2 separate regions of the Homo sapiens genome follow, and region 2 is linked to region 1. Evidence: fine-mapped expression QTL. Tissue or cell type: hippocampus. Region 1 holds a variant in brackets; the other region holds the start of a gene. All regions are shown on one strand. Distances are between the middles of the regions.

What was found. PIP is the estimated chance that this variant, and not a neighbour inherited with it, causes the effect. A credible set is the group of variants that fine-mapping cannot tell apart.
Region 2: BAAT starts here. The variant in region 1 is the best candidate, but not a certain one, in a credible set for the expression of BAAT in hippocampus (GTEx, PIP 0.52).

Annotation. Positions count from the first base shown.
Region 1 is chr9:101,355,156-101,358,077 of GRCh38, forward strand. It overlaps the pseudogene TRMT112P4. Among named protein-coding and RNA genes, the nearest start is that of BAAT, 28 kb to the right of the region's middle. The variant C/T (reference allele first, on the strand shown) is at 1,537.
Region 2 is chr9:101,383,446-101,386,367 of GRCh38, forward strand. BAAT (bile acid-CoA:amino acid N-acyltransferase) reads right to left here and starts at 1,561. Exons shown (of 4, transcript NM_001701.4): 1 at 1,410-1,561.

The DNA of each region.
Region 1 (2,922 bases):
TCATGACTTGTGCACTCTGCACTTTGGTAGAGATAGCACTGCACAGACACCACCAAGATTTACTATATTGCCTTCCAGAGAGTGGCCCAAACTGCACATGGGCCTGCGTGAACCATACCTGGGGCAGGTGAGGAGCATTGCAGCAGAATGCAGGAAGTGGAGATTTGAGGCCACCTGGCGTCAAGGTCCTACCGGTTTCCAAGCTTCCTCTTTTGATACAGATATGTTGCCCCCAGCCTTGGCAGTCTGTGCCTATGATAGGAAGGACAGCACAAATAAACACTGAAAGGCCTTTGGTGTCATTCTTTCATTATCTTGATAAATAGCACCTGATTTCTGCCTCACCGTACTAATCTCCTTATCAAACGGTTACTTAGCCACACCCTTGGTGTTCTCTCTTGAACACAGCTTTCCACTCTATACAATATGACCAGGCTGAGAATTTTCCAAATCTTTAAGTTCTGCTTCCACATTTTATTATAAGTAGTCAAAATCCTCAACATTTTGCTTAGAGATTTCTTCTAGAACATGAACATGATTTGGCCAAGTTCTTTTGCCCCTTTGTAACAGAGATCATCTAGTCCTCAGTTGCCAATAACGTGTCCTTCATTTTTGTCTGAGACTTCATCAGAATGGCCTTTACCATCTGTATTTCTGTATTATCAACATTTTGATCACAACCACTTAGGTAATCTCTAAGAAGATGGAGGCTATTTCTACAGCTTCTTCAACCTCACCTTCTTCTGAACCCTCACCTGAGTTGCCCCTAAGGCTCCTTTCATGGCAGTGGACCTGTAAACTCTTTCCATCCTTTATTTATTATGCAGTTCCAAAGCTGCTTTCCCATTTTTAGGTTTTGTTATTAACACACCCTATCTCTCTGTGCCTATTTCTGTCTTTGTTGGTCTCTGCTGCTATAATGAAATGCCTTAGACGGGGTAATTTACGATAGAAATGTATTTCTCACAGTTCTGGAGCCTGGGAGGTCTAAGATCAAGGAACTAGCAGATATGGTCTCTGGTAAGGGCTACTCTCGGCTCCATAGATAGCATCTTGTTTCTGCATCCTCACATGGTGAAGGCGGCAAGGCACCTCCCTTCAACCTCTTTTTTATTTTTATTTTTTTATTTACTTTTTTTTTGTTTGAAACTTTAATGAGAAAAAACATATACTATCGAGCTCAAGAATATGGTGTGTTTGGTGTGCCATTGGGCCAAGGGTTGGGGATACATGTAGCAGAATTAGGAAACAGGATATACATCAACAAAAATTCACACGATCATGAGAAGGAAAACTGGCACTTGGCACAATCAACTCTCAGTTTCCTCATCATTCAGCAGCATATTGGGAACCCTGCGACTGAGGCAGAACACACGTCTAGACTCTGGGCACTGCAGGGTGCCCTCCAACACATCCACCTCCAGCAGCACATGGTACATCTTCCTCAGAAACTGTTCATCCTCCTCATATCCCTCAACTGGCCCTTTAGGCACCCCAGTCAGGTGCAAGGTATGTATCAGCTGCCTCCAGGAGCAC[C/T]GGTCACTCCTAGGGTATCATACTGTGCCACTAAGTGAGGGTTGAACTCCAGAGGGCAGATGCAGACCTCAGTGGCCTGGAGGTGCAGGGGGAAGCCACAGGGCCCCACCCCCACACATGCAAGCTCAGCAGATTGTCTTCAACCTCTTTCATAAGGGCACTGATCCCAATGAGGGCTTTGCCCATATGGCTTAATCACTTCCAAAAAGGCCCCACCTCTTAATGTCATCACCTTGGGGATTAGGTTTTTAAACATATAAATTTTGGGGGCATTAATATTAAGATCATAGTAATGGGCATATGTGATGTACAAGCCTATCCCTCACATTTGTGGGACCTACAGCAAGAGCAAAAAATGAAAACCTACATACAATATTATAAATATTTAAAATGAAAATCCAGGCACAGTGACTTATGTCTCTAATCCCAGTTACTTGGGAGGCTGAGGCAGAAGGATTGCTTGAAGCCAGGAGTTTGAGACCAGACTGGGCAACATAGTAAGACCCTATCTCTAAAACTTTTTTTTCTTAACAAAAGAAAAAGGTTTAATTGGACTCACAATTCTACATGGCTGGGAGGCCTCACAATCATGATGGAAGGCAAGGGGAGCAAGTCACATCTTACATGGATGGCGGCAGGCTAAGAGAGCTTGTGCAGGGAAACTCCCCCTTATAATACGGTCAGACCTCGTGAGACTTATTTACTATCATGAGAACAGCATGGGAAAGACCTGCCTCCATAATTCAATCATCTCCCATCAGGTCCCTCCCACACACATGGGAATTATGGGAGCTACAAGATGATATTTGGTTGAGTACACAGAGCCAAACTATATCATTCTGCCCCTGGTCCCTCCCAAATCTTTTATCTTCACATTTCAAAACCAATCATGCCTTCCCAACAATCCCCCAAAGGCTCAACTCATTTCAGCATTAACCCAAAAGTCCAAGTCCAAAGTCTCATCTGAGACAAGGCAAGTCCCTTCTGCCTACAAACCTGTAAAATCAAAAGCAAGCTAGTTATTTCCTAGATACAATGGGGGTACAGGCATTGGGTAAATATAGCTATTCCAAATGGGAGAAATTGGCCAAAACAAAGGTGCTACAGGCCCCATGAAAGTCCAAAATCCAGCAGGGTAGTCAAATCTTAAAGTTCCAAAATGATCTCCTTTGACTCCATGTCTTACGTCTGGGTCACACTGATGCAAGAGGTGGGTTCCCATGGTCTTGGGCAGCACTGCCGCTATAGCTTTGCAGGGTACAGCCTCCCTCATGGCTGCTTTCACAGGCAGTTGTGGAGTGTCCTGAGTCTTTTCCAGGCCTACAGTGCAGGCTGTCAGTGGATCTACCACTCTGGGATGTGGAGGACGGTGGCCCTCTTCTCACA
Region 2 (2,922 bases), 28 kb after region 1:
AGTCCTGATTAAAATACAAAGTACCTGGATTCTTCCTCTTGAGCCTTCTTTTCCAGCAGTAGAGGGAAAATGACAGACACCCTACCAAAACTTGCCCAGAAGGCCAAAACCTCAAATATGCCTTTGGAAGTATAACAGAGCTAACTTAAGTGCTAGGTCACCACATACCTCTTGCTCTAGTTTCCTATTAATTTTTAACAGTTATTGAACCCAATAAATGTATCACTATTTTCCCTCTTCATTTTCTGTTCTCTCTAAATCCGTCCCTCTTAGGGATTGCCACTACATTTTACTCACATTATTTTAATAATTTTCTTTATAGAAGTTGTTTGACCCCTATTGGCACCATTAGGGCATATTTTTCTTCTGCAATAAAATACTCAAGGTAACTTCTGGAGGGCTCTGCATTTGCAAATGGTTTCTTTCCTGAGACAACAAAAGATGAAAACTACAAATGTGATCACAGTAATGAGTAATAAAATACTCAAGCCCCACTTTCAGAATTTGGGGAGGACCAAATCTCCTACTAATCCTCCTCAACTAATTCACATGGTTTCTTGAAATAGCTACAGAACGGAGTGTTAGTAGGATTTTACATGACAATAAAAGGACTATCTCCATAAAAGTACTGGATCTTTTTTGAGGTGATAGAGCATTTAAAAAGTGCAAACTTAAAGGAAACTTAAATTCAACTTAATTTTAAGGAAGTCTGATCAGCCAAATACTCCATAAAAAACTTGAAAACTATTAAGCTACTACCTTGCAAGACTTATGCTACAGATACAACTGATTAAGAATTATTAACTGGGATACATAAAATATTCCTAAAAAAGTAATGTCTAAAAATCTCAGGTGAATATGAGAAAAAGTCTTAAACAGGTACTTAACAGACAATAGGACACAATCATAAGCTTATGGGAAAAGGCTTAATCTCATTATCAAAGAAATGCAAATTAAAATCATGGTGTGTATTTCATACCTAAAAGGTTGGCAACAATTAAAAATTCCAAAAATAAGAGTTGGTTAGGAAGTGAATCACTCAGACTCAAGCCCTACTAAGGGAATATAAATTGGTACCACCACTTTGGAAAGCAATTGGACATTGTCTAATAAATGTGACAATATGAATAACTTTTGACCCAGCAATTCTTCTTCTAGAGAATAAAAATAAATGAATTACAACTACATGCAATAACCTGGATGAATCTTATAAACATAATGTCGTTAGAAACTAGTCATAAATACACATAAATAAATCTTTCAAATTTGTATTTGCTGAACTAAAACTATAGGCCACATTTTTGGAGTAAATCTTTAAACAAAAGCAAGGAAAGGATTACTGAGAGTCTGGATTGTGGTGAAAAATTACATTAAAAGAATGGAAGTAAGTAAATGAAAAAAATACATACCTAGCAAGAGAACCTGCCCCCAAAATTTCAGCGTAGGTTCTATTTTCCCTAAGTGTCGGCTGGTCTGAGAAATAAAGAGAAAGAGTACAAAGAGAGGAATTTACAGCTGGGCCTCCGGGGGTGATGTCACATATCAGCAGGACCGTGAGGCCCCGAGCCACAAAACCAGCAAGTTTTTATTAAGGATTTCAAAAGGGGAGGGGGTGTATGAACAGGGAGTAGGTCACAAAGATCACATGCTTCAAAGGGCAAAAGGGAGAACAAGATCACATGCTTCTGAGGCCAATAAAGATCACAAGGCAAAGGGCAATGCAAAGATCACAAGGCAAAGGGCAAACTTAGAATTACTGATGAGGGTCTATGTTCCACTGTGCATGTATTGTCTTGATAAACATCTTAAACAACAGAAAACAGGGTTCAAGAGCAGAAAACCGGTCTGACCTCAGATTTACCACAGCAGGATTTTTTCCCCATCCTAATAAGCCTGAGGGTACCGCAGGAGACCAGGGTGTATTTCAGTCCTTATCTCAACTGCGTAAGACAGACACTCCCAGAGTGGCCGTTTATAGACCTCCCCCTGGGAATGCAATTCTTTTCCTAGGGTCTTAATATTTAATATTCCTTGCTACAAGAAGAATTTAGCGATATCTCTCCTACTTACACGTCTGTTTATAAGCTCTCTGCAAGAAGAAAAATATGGCTCTATTCTGCCTGACCCCACAGGCAGTCAGACCTTGTGGTTGTCTTCCCTTGTTCCCTAAAATCACGGTTATTCTTTCTTTTTCAAAGTGCACTGATTTCATATTGTTCAAACACACGTTTTGCAATCAATTTGTACAGTCAGATACAATTACAGTGGTCCTGACGTGACGTACATCCTCAGCTTACCAAGATATGAGGATTAAGAGATTAAAATAAGACAGGCGTAAGAAATTATAAGAGTATTATTTGGGAAGTGATAAATGTCCATGAAATCTTCACAGTTTATGTTCAGAGACTGCAGTAAAGACAGGTGTAAGAAATTATAAAAGTATTAGTTTTGGGAACTGATACATGTCCATATTAAAATGAAATCTTCACAATTCATGTTCCTCTGCCGCGGCTCCAGCCAGTCCCTCCATTTGGGGTCCCTGACTTCCCGCAACACATACTATGCAACAATAAGCATAAGAAACCTAAAGTAGTAATGACTAAGATTATAAAATATATATATATCATATATCTATATGACAAGATCATAAAAACCATAAATCCGAATAATGGATTTCAAGATTTATGTGGCAAAAATTGACAGAATTAAAAGGAGAAATAGGAAAAATAACAATTCCATAACCATGAGTGAAGGTGTTTAAATCCCTTTTAACAATTGGTAGAAAACTTGAAAAAAATCAGTAAAGGCATAGATTTGAACACTATAATGACCTTACCCTAATCGCCTCAACAACTTCAAATGTACACGGCATGTTCAACAAGATAGGCCATAAGTTAGGCCATAAAATCTCGATACATGTAA